Linked DNA regions of Homo sapiens: all the other regions are linked to region 1. Evidence: fine-mapped expression QTL. A gene starts in region 1. Each other region holds a variant in brackets. All regions are shown on one strand. Distances are between the middles of the regions. Region 1 holds the start of AP3B1 (adaptor related protein complex 3 subunit beta 1). Region 2 has its middle 56 kb from the start of TBCA. Region 3 overlaps AP3B1 (adaptor related protein complex 3 subunit beta 1). Region 4 overlaps AP3B1 (adaptor related protein complex 3 subunit beta 1).

The links. PIP is the estimated chance that this variant, and not a neighbour inherited with it, causes the effect. A credible set is the group of variants that fine-mapping cannot tell apart.
Region 2: its variant is the best candidate, but not a certain one, in a credible set for the expression of AP3B1 in subcutaneous fat (GTEx, PIP 0.50).
Region 3: its variant is the best candidate, but not a certain one, in a credible set for the expression of AP3B1 in monocytes (Fairfax 2014, PIP 0.80).
Region 4: its variant is the best candidate, but not a certain one, in a credible set for the expression of AP3B1 in whole blood (TOPMed, PIP 0.61).

Annotation. Positions count from the first base shown.
Region 1 is chr5:78,292,336-78,296,603 of GRCh38, forward strand. AP3B1 (adaptor related protein complex 3 subunit beta 1) reads right to left here and starts at 2,363. Exons shown (of 27, transcript NM_003664.5): 1 at 2,117-2,363. The coding sequence starts at 2,244. RefSeq lists enhancers at 2,626-3,199, 3,574-3,623.
Region 2 is chr5:77,830,269-77,834,536 of GRCh38, forward strand. No RefSeq gene overlaps it. Among named protein-coding and RNA genes, the nearest start is that of TBCA, 56 kb to the left of the region's middle. The variant A/T (reference allele first, on the strand shown) is at 1,831.
Region 3 is chr5:78,121,740-78,126,007 of GRCh38, forward strand. The region is part of intron 17 of AP3B1 (adaptor related protein complex 3 subunit beta 1); the gene reads right to left. Among named protein-coding and RNA genes, the nearest start is that of AP3B1, 170 kb to the right of the region's middle. The variant C/T (reference allele first, on the strand shown) is at 1,794.
Region 4 is chr5:78,088,882-78,093,149 of GRCh38, forward strand. It overlaps AP3B1 (adaptor related protein complex 3 subunit beta 1), which reads right to left. Exons shown (of 27, transcript NM_003664.5): 22 at 512-618. Among named protein-coding and RNA genes, the nearest start is that of AP3B1, 200 kb to the right of the region's middle. The variant A/G (reference allele first, on the strand shown) is at 2,195.

The DNA of each region.
Region 1 (4,268 bases):
ATGTTTCTAATCCCTGGAAGCTTCTCTGGTGGTACTACTTGGAGCTACTATTTAAAGTTTTAAACTTTTTGTGAGTTGTATGCACTCACTAATAAAAATACCATACATTTCATCAAGTAGTAAGTAGCACATCTAAACTTTTGAGAGAATGGGCTCTAATATTAGAGCCCCTGAGTTCAAATTCAGGCAGTGCAATGTTCTACCTTTGTGGCCTTTTCCAAGTTAACAACCTTGCTCCAATTTCCTCACGTGTAAAGTGGGAGCAGAGAAGTACCTGGTAATAACCTGCAGGGTTGTTTAGGAAAACTGAATGAGATAATAAATGTAAAGTGGTGTGCACAAATACTCAATAAATATCTTTCGGGGAACACAATTCAACCATGGTTATTTGCATATATTACATATCACCTCTAATCAATTAGCTACTTTTATTTTAAATCCAACCTGTTAGGTCACCTCAAGAGCACTGGTCACAGAGTCAAAGCCGTAAGTTTTTTTTGTTTTTTTTTTCCAAATCAGGTCCAAATTTGACAAAAATCTTTTTCTTTTTTTTCTTTTTTTGAGACGGAGTCTCACTCTGTCGCCCACGTTTGAGTGCTGTGGCGCGATCTCGGCTCACTGCAGCTTCCGCCTCCCGGGTTCAAGCGATTCTCCTGCCTCAGCCTCCCGAGTAGCTGGGATTACAGGCACGAGCCACCACGCCCGGCTAATTTTTGTATTTTTAGTAGAGACGGGGTTTCACCATGTTGGCCAGGCTGGTCTCGAACTCCTGGCCTCAAGCGATCCGCCCACCTCACCCTCCCAAAGTGCTGGGATTACAGGCGTGAGCCGCAGTGCCTGGCCCCAAATCTGACAAAAATCTAAGAGAAAACATCGTAGATGTTCACAAACCATAAAAGTAAATTAATTTGCGAAACAGATTGATGCCGATATACAGGTTAATTCAGTCTAAACATTTTGCTAATAGTAGAGGCAACAAGCTCCGTACTTGTTCTAGAACAATGGATCATCAAATGCATATAATGAAAAATGAAATCAGTTACCTTACTTTTAAACTTTTCTAACCTTGGGAAAAAGGAAAAGATTGTATCTTACATGCTATATATATGATTTTGATCCTCAATACAGCCAAAATGTAATCCCAATTTGAAGTAGTAGCACTTTCTAGACTACCCAATATTGTTAGTAACGTTTAATTTAAATTTTAATTATACCCTCTAACAGATCTGCAAAGCTACTAGCACAGCTATTCTACCTTAATTTAGCATGAATTTAGTGACAGACTATTATGTGACCCTATTGCTTAGTAATGAAAGATTTAAAATAAGAGAAATGTAAAAATGATAATTCTGGTAAATGTAACCACTACCACCAACCCACCCCCCAAAACAAACAACTTGGGATTTCTTTCCATTTCTCGGTGATACTTTTTACAAAACTAAGTGTACCTTGTTTAACATTCGTTTTTAAAATTCACATTATTAATCTGTAAAAGTTTTGGATTTGTTCACAGTAACACTCTTTTAAAATATTTTCTATTCATATGCTTATTTTGGATTGGTGTTTTTGTCTGTAGTGCAAAGGACATAATCCAAGAACATTAATACTGGTGTAAACCAGTTTGTCCATTCAAACAGCCTAAATCCACCTCTCTGCTCCTACACTCCGGGGTCACAAAATAACTTCCCACAAGCAACACTCGCACTCTCACCTTCACCAAAACACTCCTTTCACCCTAATCAGGGAATGTATTAAAGTCTGATCCGGCGAACGGTAAATAAACTAGAAGACGATGCTCAAAATTCAGACTCCTGAGCCCAGCCCAAGTCCAATTCAATCAGTGTCTTCAGGGGTGGGATCTAAGCTCACCAAGTGGTTTCCTTTTCACTAAAGTTTGAAAACTACTAGAGACCCCTACACACATTCGCCCCAAACTCCCACAACTCCCACCACCGCCAACCAACCCCACCTACCCACCCGCGGGACACGTTACCGCCCTGCCCTGCTCAGACCTCAGGGCGACCCCGCTCCTCTCCAGGAAGCCCACCCTGGCGCCCACTCCTCCGAGTCCGCAGCTCCTCCCTCCCATCCCCGCAACCCAAACCTTTCTCCTCACTTCTTCAAATCGCTGCTAAAGAGGCCGAAGGCCCCCGAGGGGGAAATGGTTGAGGTCGCCTCCTGACCCAGCTCCGTCGCCTCCCCTCCTCCGGACTGCTCATTGTAAGGAAAACTATTGCTGGACATTGCCGCGGTGCTGGCGGGTGCGGGGTTGGTCCTGCCGGGGGTTCTCTCCAAAAGGTTCCAGTCCAGAGGGCACGGAACAAAACTAGTTCTCGTACGGAGGAGCGCGCGCAGGCGCTTCCGGACTCGTCACGGCTCCCTGAGCCGACCTGGCAGTCCACCCCCTGCGCATGCGCAGTGTGCAGGCCTGCTAGATTACCACCCGGGCCATCCAGGCCTGCGCGGACTTTCCTGCTCCGGGCTTTAGAGGTAGCTGAGCGGCTGCGAGCCGGACTGCGGAAGGGGAGGCAGCGGGTGGCTAACTGCCCGGCTCCCGGCCCGTTTGAGGTGTGTCTTTGGAGAAGGATACCCATTGCATCCGTTTTGATCCGTTAAGGAGTTTCCAGAGCCCGGACAGCTCTTTGCTATACTTCAGTAAAGCAATAGTTTTCAGATTTCTCCGGAAATGCCATTTAGCACGCCAGATCACCTTTCCTAAACCCATCACGATCGCTTTTCCTTTTCTTGCTTGTTTCGGCTACTCTCTTCCATCCGGCTTTGCCTTACTTTCATATCGGTCCCAAACAACTTTTCTCCTAGACTTTAAGGAGGCCTCTCCCAACGATGGTTTGGAGGATCCGCACAGAAGCGACCATTCCATCTTTTCAATGAAAGTCTTGGGGGCAGACCGGGCGCGGTGGCTCACGCCAGTAATTCCAGCACTTTGGGAGGCCGAGGCGGGTGGATCACTTGAGGCCAGGAGTTCGAGACCAGCCTAGGCAACATAGCGAGACCCTTTCTCTGCAAAAAATATAAAAATTAGCCGGCGTGGTGGCGCGTGTCTGTGGTCCCAGCTACTGAGGCTGAGGTGGGAGGATCACTCGAACCCAGAAGGAGGGGGTAGCGATGAGTTGAGATCTCTCCACTGCATTCCAGCCTGGGCGACAGAGCGAGACCCTGTCTCAAAAAAATGAAAAAGAAAAGAAAACATCTTGGGGCCACCAGTTCCCGTTTGGAGCTGAAGTGGTGCGTCCTATTGGCGTCTAGCTACCAAAAATAAAATGGACCACCTCGCGCGCCAGTCGTGTTACTCACTAATATGCACTAGGGAGCCTAGGCGGGATGCTTGCCTGGCCCCAGAGTAGCTCTCTCCGGGTGCTGGCACCCGAGAAAACCTCTTTCCCGGGGTGCCTTCCCCCAGCCCGCCTTCTCAGGTGGGTTTCAGCGCCTTCCCTCTCTTCTCCCCAGTGCCTCCCGTCCAAGGAAGGCATTAACACCCAAAGCCCTGGCGGCCAGGTACTGAAACTGTCAAGGGATTCTACCAGGTAGAACGCGAACCTGGAGGCCGGCCGCCCCAGGGAAGGCGGTGGGGCGTTTTCAAGGATGAGAGTATGATCTCCAAATTTCAAAAGGTCACACTGTCACTGTGGAAGCACGCAAGAGCGTGGCTCTGGGTGGGAGAGGAAGGGACGTCCTCCAAACTTGATCGTCTGGTCAAATATTGGCAGGTTTTTAATTCAGCTGTTAGAATACTCCTCCGGAGAGCCAATGATGAGCACCTAAAATGTGTTATTTGTCAGTATTAATTAATAGAATTTCACCTACAACTGACTATTGATGATGAGGATGAGGATGATCATAGATAACTATATATTATTATATAATCCTTAATATATACCAGGATATAAGTAGTTTTATATATATTAAAACTTCTAAGTAGTTTTATATATATAAATAGTTAAAGTAGTTAACTTTTAATATAAAAAAATTTATTTTAAGTTAAAATAAATACTTTTAAGTTAAAATAGTTAACTTTTAATATATATTAAAAGTTCTAAGTAGTTTTATATATATTAATAGTAAAAAGAGCTAGGCTTTGATTACTTTATTTGTAAAATGAGAACATTGATATACACATAGCCTGGAAAATCTCGGACACATACCTGATTACAGAATTTCTTGGTTTTAGAGCATGTACACTTTTACCAGATATCCTAAATTTTTTTCCAGCATACTTTTAGCAGTGGATAATCTTCTTTCTTCACATT
Region 2 (4,268 bases), 460 kb before region 1:
CCCAGTTAACCTATTCACACTTTAATTGCAATTTTCTGAAGAAAATTTCTTAAGTCAGTTGTTCTTAACTGCAATATTCGGCAAGTAATTTTTTACTATTGATAGTTCTATTACTGATGTTTTTAAATGATTTGCTTTTCAAAAAAATAAACGAGAACACGCTCAAGGTTATCCTTTCATTCTCAGTTACCTTTGGATATGCTTTTGAGTGAAGGTGCAGTTACCAGTACACACTGGGAATTGGATATAATCCTCAGTCCAGAGCGAGTGACTATTGCTAATGGACTTTGCTAATTGGTTCATTTTACTTCACCAAGCATCTGTTGAATGCCTACTATGTACAAAGCATTAATCTGAAATTAGTTGCTTTTTCAAACTAAAACTTCTATGTACCTTCAATTTCTGGGTCATCCAATTAATTTCAGCATGTTAAAGGACTTTCTGTTTTATGATACATAATTATATAACGTAGGCCTCTTGTGAATCTTAATTCTTTCATTAACTTACCTCATTTAACTTATTAGGTACCCATTTATAGCTTTGTAAAATGCACTGTACTTAAAAGTAATAACTGCAGCACTTTGAAATCTTTTAGAATTCATTCTTTTCATTAAAATCAAACTAATTGCCTCTTCCTCTTGTCTATTATTTTGAAATATTGAGGTTGTGCTACTTAGGTTCTTTTGTCTTATTTCTTTTTATGTTGTATTACCAGTTCCCAAAGGGCATCCAGTGGTGTAACTTGGAACACACGCTCAATTCACAGTCGCAGACACTGGTTGATGGTGGTAGCAATTAACCTGCTTTACATTCCCTCCTGTCCCTCCAATTATGAGAATAATTAAGTGGTGTATGTGTGACAAAGAGAGACAGATAGAAGGATGGGATGGAGATGTGGTACTCTGACAGAAGCAAGACGTAGGGTAATTTTTGGAGTCAGCAAAATTGCCTATACTCCCCACTAGGTTCACTCTTTTCCCCCAAGTGATACCCTCTGGTGCCTCACTGCAGTCACCTGTAGCTCCCTTCCTTTATCCTCCTATTAAATTGCTCTCTAATCCTACATTTATACAAAATTATATGAATTAACACTTTTTAAGTTAATTTACATATTTATGTTGAATAGGTAATTATTTTTTATCTCTTGCTGCTTAGTAAACCACTCCAAAACTTACTGATTTAAAACAACAATGTATTTTTTTTTACAGTTCTGCAATCTGAGACAGGCTCACCGGGATGATTCTTCTGCTCCATGTGTTGGCTGCTGGGGCTGAAATGTCTGAGATGGCTTCTTTACTTGCCTATTGGGTGCCTCAACAGGGATGGCTAGAACAGCTTGGGGCTGGCTGGGCATCTCTCCCTCCATGCGGCTTTTCTACGTGGCTAGATTGGCTTCTTCATAGCATAGTGCTCTTAGGGCAATTGAACTTCTTACCTGAAGGTTGAGGTTAGCTGGCTTCTAATGGAAGCGGCGGCAGAAGCAGAAGCTGCCATTTCTCCCAAAGGCTAGGGGTGGACCTACCTCATGGACACTTCCCCACCAATGTGTGTCACAAAATCAGCCCAGATTCAAAAGCAGGAGAAAGAGACTCCATCTGTTGATATGAAGATTGGCATACATTTATGGGGGGAAAAGGAACTGGGAACAGCTACCTTGCATATGGAAAAAAATTCAAACAGTGCAAAAGGGTACACAGTATAAAATAAGTCTCTTTGGCAACTCTGTCCCCAAGACACTCCAGTATAACAACTGTTACGCTTTCTGCGTATTTTCCCAGAGATATTCAATATATAAACAAACATATGCTTTATATATATGCTTTTAAATAT[A/T]TTTCTTACATTGATAGTGTGTATAATATAGTTTTATTCCAAGGTTGCCTGCTCTATAGTGTCCATGCTTTGCTTTTCTCATTTAATCATACAGAGGGAGGTAGTTCTATTCTTTGTAATGGCTACATATTTTCCTTTGGTAGATATTTAGCCATTTCTGATCTCTTGTTAATATAATACCAATACTGCTTCGATGAATATCACTATGTGTATTTTAAAAATGTAACTTTGCCAGTAAGAAAAATTCCTGTAAGAAGAATTGCTGAGTCAAATAATATATGCATGTACGATGTTATTAGGTCAATAAAGGTACCATGGGGAGGGACATCTAAATCAGTCATTCTTCACTGGGGAGGGAGAAAGCTTTGCCTACCACGCATGCTCCCTCCTCGCCTCTAGTCCCACTGCCAGCAGGTGTGATAAAACTGCTTCACTAATTGAGAACCACTCCTCTAGACCAACTACCTCATTCAGCAGAGAAGGCTCCTGCAGGTCTGAGAGCCTGACTCACCCTTCAGTGCCTCATCACACTGTGAATTGGTCTTCTCTCGACCAATAAGCACATAAGCAGTCACTGCAGGATCACCTTGATGTAGACAAAGTTTGTCCAAAGGGTGCCTTGTGATCACTAAACCTGAAAGAGCCTCCATGATCCAAAAAACAGAAAAAGATTCTGTCATCAAGCACGCCTGGGAACACTGCACCCTATATCAGTAAGTCACAATCAACAACGGCAAATGAGGACTCTGAGGAGCCCTGCCCCTAAGAAAACTGCTTAACATTGTTTAAATAAAAGAATGGATTTAAACGTCTGCTTCCTAACCTTATTGGACCATATCACCCCTTTTTGTAACACTTGTTTTGCTAACTACCTGTGGAAATAAGCTTTCTGGGAAACATTCTTTGTGGTGTAGAAGAAAAGTTACTGAACTGGGAAACTGGCTCCACTCCCAACCAGCTATGCAGTCACAAACAGTCAAAAATCACTCTGAGCCCCGGGCAGTGTAATTGTCTGGTGGTGGTGGTGGTTTGGTCCTTTTAACCTAGAGGAGCTTCCCCTTCCATTTCCCTTACTGAAGACAACACAGGATGTTATGCCTGACAGGGAACATTGAAGTTCGATCTGCGTATTTGTTCCTTTGAATTCCTTCTAGTCTGTTCTTTAGCTATGTGTATGCTAGTGCAAGTGGATATGACAAGTCCAGTAGGGCTTTTAGCTCAAGTCTTCTTGTTCCTGCTGCTCACCACCCTGACCACTCCCTCCCAAAGCTTCCCCACCTTCAGAAAAGAAAAAAAACCTGGAGTTCAGCAGAAATCAGGCTGACCTCAGGCATGCACACAGCAGACGATGAATATATCTAACTCTCTGTCTTTGCCACTTCTTTTCTGGACAGGCCATAAACAAATTTTGTGCTCAGGGAAAAATGATCTGGTATTCTTATATCAAATTCATATAACCTTTGCAAATGAGAACAGATCTTCAAACCAGGTGTAGTGTGATTTGTTTTGACTCTTTACTGCCTCCAACTGAGATGTTTTACATATACTAATCTAAAGACAATGAATCCTGAGCTGATTTCATGAGTGTAAGTTATTCCAGCCCTGAAATGAAGGGGCCTGCTGTGTGTCAGAACACACAGATGCATAGGCAACCAAGAGCTATTGAGCTAAATATCTTTTTTTATTAATCAGGGCTTCAGAGGTAAAATCTCCTTCTCAGGGACATCAAGGTGATTTGTGACACTCTCCGTACACCTTTATATTCACAAACCAATGAGTACATCACACCAATCTCTCGTTTTCTCATCAGTGGCAGACATAAAACACAGGTAATCTTCATGCTACTCAGATGTTTCAATTAACTGTGAAAACCCTTTGGCTTATATTATATAACATTTGTGAGTACTTCATTTCCTTTCAGCTTAAGCATCAACTAGAACACACACTTAAAATCTTGTTACATTTCTTTTAGAAATTGATGCAATTAAATGGTAGAGCTGCCTATACTAAAGACAAAAAGAATGAACTCTGAGGACACCTGAGATCTTTCTTTTTGTGGTCCTCTTAGGTGTCCGATTCATGGTTTAGAAAGGCGGGGTCTGTTTTTATATTCACCAAGAACACAGGGGCCTGAAAGTGGGAAATCCAAACACATGTGTTTACCAAGAATTCACCTCTTTGCACACATTGTATGCAGCAAGTACCTATGTTAGTGAATTTTTCTAAGTCAACCCTGGAGATATTTACAATCTTTTAAGTAAGAATCCTGGCCAGGCGTGGTGGCTCACGCCTGTAATCCCAACACTTTGGGAGGCCGAGGCAGGTGGATCACAAGGTCAGGGGCTCGAGACTCAGCCTGACCAATATGGTGAAACCCCGTTTCGACTAAAAATACAAAAATTAGCTGAGCTTGGTGGCAGGTGCCTGTAATCCCAGCT
Region 3 (4,268 bases), 170 kb before region 1:
ATTCACAGCCGAATTCTACCAGAGGTACAAGGAGGAGCTGGTACCATTCCTTCTGAAACTATTCCAATCAATAGAAAAAGAGGGAAGCCTCCCTAACTCATTTTAGGAGGCCAGCATCATCCTGATACCAAAGCCTGGCAGAGACACAAACCAAAAAAGAGAATTTTAGACCAATATCCTTGATGAACATTGATGCAAAAATACTCAATAAAATACTGGCAAACCGAATCCAGCAGCACATCAAAAAGCTTATCCACCATGATCAAGTGGGCTTCATCCCTGGGATGCAAGGCTGGTTCAACATACACAAATCAATAAATGTAATCCAGCATATAAACAGAACCAAAGACAAAAACCACATGATTATCTCAATAGATGCAGAAACGGCCTTTGACAAAATTCAACAACCCTTCATGCTAAAAACTCTCAATAAATTAGGTATTGATGGGATGTATCTCAAAATAATAAGAGCTATCTATGACAAACCCACAGCCAATATCATACAGCATGGGCAAAAACTGGAAGCATTCCCTTTGAAAACTGGCACAAGACAGGGATGCCCTCTCTCACCACTCCTATTCAACATAGGGTTGGAAGTTCTGGCCAGGGCAGTTAGGCAGGAGAAGGAAATAAAGGGCATTCAATTAGGAAAAGATGAAGTCAAATTGTCCCTGTTTGCACATGACATGATTGTTTATCTAGAAAACCCATCGTCTCAGCCCAAAATCTCCTTAAGCTGATAAGCAACTTCAGCAAAGTCTCAGGATACAAAATCAATGTGCAAAAATCACAAGCATTCTTATACACCAATAACGGACAAACAGAGAGCCAAATCATGAGTGAACTCCCATTCACAATTGCTTCAAAGAGAATAAAATACCTAGGAATCCAACTTACAAGGGATGGGAAGGACCTCTTCAAGGAGAACTACAAACCACTGCTCAATGAAATAAAAGAGGATACAAACAAATGGAGGAACATTCCATGCTCATGGGTAGGAAGAATCAATACCGTGAAAATGGCCATACTGCCCAAGGTAATTTATAGATTCAATGCCATCCCCATCAAGCTACCAATGACTTTCTTCACAGAATTGGAAAAAACTACTTTAAAGTTCATATGGAACCAAGAAAGAGTCCGCATCGCCAAGTCAATCCTAAGCCAAAAGAACAAAGCTGGAGGCATCATGCCATCTGACTTCAAACTATACTACAAGTCTACAGTAACCAAAACAGCATGGTACTGGTACCAAAACAGAGATATAGATCAATGGAACAGAACAGAGCCCTCAGAAATAATGCCGCATATCTACAACCATCTGATCTTTGACAAACCTGAGAAAAACAAGCAACGGGGAAAGGATTCCCTATTTAATAAATGGTGCTGGGAAAACTGGCTAGCCAGATGTAGAAAGCTGAAACTGGATCCCTTCCTTACACCTTATACAAAAATTAATTCAAGATGGATTAAAGACTTAAATGTTAGATCTAAAACCATAAAAACCCTAGAAGAAAACCTAGGCAATACCATTCAGGACAGAGGCATGGGCAAGGACTTCATGTCTAAAACACCAAAAGCAATGGTAACAAAAGCCAAAATTGACAAATGGGACGTAATTAAACTAAAGAGCTTCTGCACAGCAAAAGAAACTACCATCAGAGTGAACAGGCAATCTACAGAATGGGAGAAAATTTTTGCAACCTACTCATCTGACAAAGGGCTAATATCCAGAATCTACAATGAACTCAAACAAATTTACAAGAAAAAAACAAACAACCCCATCAAAAAGTGGG[C/T]GAAGGATGTGAACAGACACTTCTCAAAAGAAGACATTTATGCAGCCAAAAAACACATGAAAAAATGCTCGTCATCACTGACCATCAGAGAAATGCAAATCAAAACCACAATGAGATACCATCTCACACCAGTTAGAATGGCAATCATTAAAAAGTCAGGAAACAACAGGTGCTGGAGAGGATGTGGAGAAATAGGAACACTTTTACACTGTTGGTGGGACTGTAAACTAGTTCAACCATTGTGGAAGTCAGTGTGGCGATTCCTCAGGGATCTAGAACTAGAAATACCATTTGACCCAGCCATCCCATTACTGGGTATATACCCAAAGGATTATAAATCATGCTGCTATAAAGACACAGGCACATGTATGTTTATTGCGGCACTATTCACAATAGCAAAGACTTGGAACCAACACAAATGTCCAACAACGACAGACTGGATTAAGAAAATGTGGTACATATACACCATAGAATACTATGCAGCCATAAAAAATGATGAGTTCATGTCCTTTGTAGGGACATGGATGAAACTGGAAACCATCATTCTCAGCAAACTATCACAAGGACAAAAAACCAAACACCACATGTTCTCACTCATAGGTGGGAAATGAACAATGAGAACACATGGACACAGGAAGGGGAACATCACACTCCAGGGACTGTTGTGGGGTGGGGCGAGTGGGGAGGGATAGCATTTGGAGATATACCTAATGCTAAATGACGAGTTAATGGGTGCAGCACACCAACATGGCACATGTATACATATGTAACAAACCTGCACATTGTGCACATGTACCCTAAAAGTATAATAATAAAATAAAAATTAAACACACACACACACACAAAATCTCCATATGATTATAATGCGCAGCTACATTTAAAAACCACTAGTCTAAGGCTGGGTGATGTAGCTCATACCTGTACTCTCAGCACTTTGGGAGCTGAGGCAGGAGGATGGCTTGAGCCCAGGAGTTTGAGGCTGCAGTGAGCTATGATCGCACCACTGCACTCCAGCCTGGGTGACAGAGCAAAATCATGTCTCAAAAAAATAAATAAAAGCAAATAAAAATAAAACCACTGATCTAGAGGGTTTAAGGTATGTTGCTTAAAAAGAGAAGCTTGAATATATTTGAATAAGATGCTTATATAAGATCAGCAGTATGGCTTTCTTTTATATTTATTTAAAATGCTTCTGTCTACAAAGATAGTATTCTATAAACAAAGCTCTCTTATATTTGGTAAACTCTGAAGTCCATATTTTTCTTAAATCCAAACATATTTCTCTGAGGTCTGATAAAACGTTTGTTGGATTAATTTAATAACACTAAATCAACAATTTCGGAAAACCAGACTTCTATGCTCAAACGTGCATTTTTTCTTGACATGGCCATGAATTCTATGGAGTTTCAGGTTTTAAAAGGCCAAAGACGAACAATAAAAGTATCTTAATTTGTATTGTGGTCCTTTATGACTAAAAGACCACATTATCATTGTAAGGAAAAGGAATAATAGGGAAAAGAAAAGAAAAGAAAAGAAGAGAACATAGACGCTAATTTGAAAGTTTCTGTAAAGGATAAAATATTGACAGATGTGTTTATGAAGCAAAATACCCTTCATATGCAGAAGGCGGTCTTTCTGTCAGTAGAGAAGAAAGGACTTTCTAGAACTAAGCAAATAAATTATTAACTAAGGATCTTCAAAACTTACTGGGATCATAATATAAATATATATTATATCCTATATCCTAGAAATGGTGGTGTGTAATTCAAAGTGACTTCTACTGTCAATCTGACTAGGTTCCCAGTCATTTTGATTAAAATATCAGATTATCTAAACCTAGGTCATTTTTCTTACTAAGTTATATTTCACAGTTACAGGACTTGACCATGTAAGATCACTTTACAGGAAAACTAGAATAACATAGTATATTATATGCATGAAATACAGTGACATGACTTGGAAGGGAGATGAAGTAGAGTGAGAGACAAGAAAGATAATACGGACATTATTTTTTGTATTGTAGCTGCATTTAAAAAGAAAACTATCTACGTTATTTTTATATTTAATTGTGTCCCTCATAGTATAATTTTAAGCCAATTGTCTCAGAGTCCAATAGACTGAAGCTGTTTTCTGCATGGCATCAACAGACAGTGACAGTTTTATCAAACCATGTTCAATCAGTTATAATGATTCTCTCTAAGTTACCAATTATTAATTTCATAAATATAATCAGCAAAATGAAAAAGAAATTAATTTGTCTCTGTTGAATTGGACAGGTGAAACGAACATAATATGTTATATTTAAGTACTGTCCCTATAAGGTAGTTAATGCTTAGAAGAGCACATGAAAATGGAAGAAGCCAGCCAACAAACCAATCTATCAGCCAATAAAGAATACTGCTGAGACCAAATTAAATTGCATAGCATTGCTATCAACTCTGAGAAGATAATGCTTTTTGGTGGGTGGGGGCAGCA
Region 4 (4,268 bases), 200 kb before region 1:
TCACATCACATTCTATAAATAACATTAAAGAATAATTTTAAAGACACCAACACATGTAAATAAATGTACAAAAATAAGACAGAAAAAAAAATCTTGAACTTTTAAATAAAAACAGTCATGAATTTTTAATAGTCTATGAAAAAATAGTGTGGTAGGAATAAAACGATTACGGAAATGAAAGTCTGTTAATGTAGACAACTTTTTGTGGCACAGTTCAGGTATATGTACTGCGTCAATGTGGTGAAGAACCTTTGTATGTTACAGATATATAACAATACCAGAGAAAAACATACAGATGATAATTAAGTGTGGACAACAAGGGAAAAAAATTGAGAAGATAATGGTTTGAGTAAATTATTTAAAAAATTAAAAGGTCTTAGCTAAATTGGGCTTGTTCTTAGAGAAGAATCTGTTCAAAACTAAGAATCCACTTCAAGTATTTACATTTTAATAAAAAAGATACAATGGCAACATAAGAAAACCGAGCTGGTGGATTTTAAAAATAACTTACACTGATGACTGAAGAGGAAGTTGACAAGTGTAAACCTTCAAGATCAGCCATCAAACTTGGAGAAAGAGCTGGTGTGGGAAGTGCAACTGGAGTGGATACTGGGTTAACTGTAAGAAAAGGCCCAAATTAGTAAATGTGCATGAACGTTTAATTCAAATTATTAAAAGCAACATTTTTATTTTGTTAGTAAATCTAATTAAATTACTTTGATTAATAAATGTATGACAATTCTATTTAACATCTTGATTTAGTCAACTTATTATCAAGTCATGGCAGTTATTAGTCTTAGCTTTCAAAACATAATGGCAAATCCTATAACAAAATAAGGATATAAATATCTTGAGTAATAGTTTGTGAAAATTTTTATCACATAACATTATCACTAACATTTATCACCCAGTAATCTCCCTAAAAAAGTAAAGAAACATTTTTTTTCCAGACTATCATAAGAATAACAACCGCTTCCAAGAGAATGCTGCAGTGGAATTAGAAGTCTTGAAAGATGTTCAAATCCTATATCTATTTTATTCTCCACTCTAATCAGGCTACCTAATTCCCTTGTAATTATACTTTTTCAGCAAAAGCTATGTGCTAGATAGAAATGTTTGACTGATTCTAAAACTGCTATATACTTGAGAACTGATACCTGTAAGTTTGGAAATCTTCTAAAAATGCAAGTCTGGTCATGTTACTCCCCTGCTTAAGACTCTTCAAAGGCTCATAACTGCCTACAAGATAAAAGCCCAACTCCTCAATTAAGTTCACAAAGTCCTCTATGGTCTGCCCCAGCCCAAACAGCCCTTCCTATGCTAATGGAAATGTTCTACATTTGATAAAGTGGACACTAGCCACATATGCCTAACATACTCTTGATATGTGGCTAGTATGACTAAATAAATGCATTTTAAACTTTGCATAATTTAAGTAATTACATGTGGCTTGTGGCCGCCATACTGGACTATTCAGGTCCAGCTTATCTCCAATTTCAGCATTGTTATGCACTAGCTCTATGGGATAATAGTTCCCAAGATCTTGTTCTACGTCTTGGAGCCTTTTATATTCTACTCTGTTTGCCTACTTCTCTGCCTTGCTCATCTTGCAACTTCGATCTGGCAAGCTACCCTTTAAAAGGAAAACACTCTCTGGCTCACCTGCAAACAGCTTATATGTGCCTTCTTTGTTCCACAGATATACTTGAACAAACTTCTATAACTGTACTTCTCATGTAATACAAATTTGTGTCTTTACATGTTTGCATTTCTGCTAGTCTGTGTGAACAGACAATAACATTAATTTTTGGTGTTTCTAAACCATTTGAATAAAATACATTACAATGTGGTCAAGTTTTAGCTTCCAACAAATTCTCATTCCAAGATAATACCCTAAAGGGAATAACATTTAGTTAATTTGACATTTCTTTTTTTATTTTTATTTTTGGAGATAGGGTCTTGCTCTGTTGCCCAGGCTGGAGTAAAGCGGTGCAATCCCTTCCTGGGCCCAAGCAATCTCAGCCTCCTGAGTAAGTGCATGCCACCATACCCAGCCTTTTTTTTTTATTTTTTATTTTATTTTTTTTTAGAGATGGGATCTCCCCATGTTGTCCAGGCTGGTCGCTAACTCCTAGGCTCAGGCAATCTTCCTACCTTGGCCTCCCAAACTGCTGGGATTACAGGCGTGTGCCAC[A/G]ACACCCAGCTGTGACATTACTTTTCAAAGCATCTTTTTCTCATTTCAGTCTCACAATATCCAGTGAACAAGGCAGAACAAATATTAATCCGTAAAGTTAACAACAAATATTTATTCTGAAAGGTAGCAAGTGAGAGACAAAAAAGTTCAAGATCCTCAAGTAACAAAACCTAATTAAGAAAAAGAGATACATGTATTTGACAAAAAAAAAAAAAAAAAAGTAACAATACAGTCCATAAATGATACGGCCAAAGAAGAAAAATTTCAAAGGAAACACTAAACAAAATCTCAACATATATAATAGAGAAAGCAGCCTGGAGGTTGGATGGGGAGGGAGTGGAGCTCTTGGTCTTCCCTACGCTCACTTAGTACGGCTGAAGCACAGCTTCAAACCCCCAGGCTTCCTTAGACCCACACTGAAAACCCCGGTACAGTTTAGCAAGTGTCACAGAGTCAGGGGCAAAACAAGGATCACTGGAGAAGGAGTGGAAGAGGAGGCTTCATGAACAGGAGGGAATGAAGTCCAATTTTTAAGTAAGAGTGAGATTTGAATAAGAGGAAAGAAAGAAGCCAGTTAATTGTTGGATAACAGAATGCTATAAACAAAGGCTGAGAGGTAGGAAATTGAAAAACTAAGGGGACTGGATTTATCCTATAGACCAAGGGGAACAGTCAAAAATCGATCAAACAGAGGAATGACAATGAATATGGTCCTGCAGGATGGTTAATCAGATGGCAGTACAATGCACAGACTGAAGGCAGGGTTGGGAGTAGGGAAGAATTTACAATAGTTTAGGAATGAAGTGAAAAAGACTAAAGTAAGCCAATGGCAATGAGAAGGCTTAAAAAGAGCATTTAATATTGAAGACACTGGAAACTGAGCCACAGGGAGATTAATATTGACAAGGTCATAAAAAGTGAATGGTAGAACCACTATAGAATTAGAAACTGCTTCTTCTAACTTGGATCATAATATGTTGCCTTCCCATGCAACACGTAACTTTTCAGGTAAGTTCTAAATGCATGTTTATTCATTCCTTTGTACATCTATCTACCCACCCGTCCACCATCTGTCCTTTCAAAATATTAGAATGCCCATGTAACGAATAAAAAACTGAATAAGAAACAGCCTCTGATTTCAACTGTGGCTTGGCTAAATACCATCAAGAGACAAGAGAAGAAACTTCACACCACAAGCAAGTTCTGCTGTTTTTTAAAAAAGGATGGGTTTTAATATAATTTCAGAAGATGTGTGCTCTGGTATTAAAGAGATGATTATGCATCTGTTTGCAGGTATGGCAAGATGAAAGTTGGCATTGAAAGCTTACCCTAAAGTGAATTCTGAGGCTAGGTGACTGTGCTGAAGTATTTAATTAGTAATGTGTAAAAACAAAGTGACTCTATGGGGTTTTTAAAAAAAATGTCATAGTATACAAGTTAAAATGAAATATCATGCCCACCTGGCAAATTAGAAAAGGTAATTTTAAAATACAAAATCTAGCATTGGTGAAGGTACAAGGAATATAGCACCCTCATATTAATACTGTGTAAGCTGGTACAAGCTTTCTGAAAGGCAATTTTATTTACTTATTTTTGAGGAGTTTCTCTGTCACTCAGGCTGGAGTGGAGTGGCATAATCACAGCTCAGTGCAGCCTTGAATTTCTGGACTCAAGCAATCCTCCCGCCTCAGCCTCCTGAGTAGCTAGTATTACAGGTGTATGCCACCATGCCCCGCTAATTTTTCTATCTTTTTGTAGAGACAGGAGTCTCACTTTGTTGTCCAGGCTGGTCTCGAACTCCCAACTTCAAGCAGTCCTCCTGTCTCAGCCTCCCAAGTAGCTGGGATTACAGGCATGAGCCACCATGCCAAGCCTAAAAGGCAATTTTGGACAAACAAATTCTTCAAAGTCTTTGTTCCAGCAATACTACTTCTGGAAATTTATCTTAAGGAAACAGTTACAGAGATATTGAAAAATATATTTACAATGATGAATGTTACTTCACTAATTATGATAGCAAAAAATGGAAAACAGCTAAATTCCCAACAACAGTAAATCTGTTAAACAGAATTTG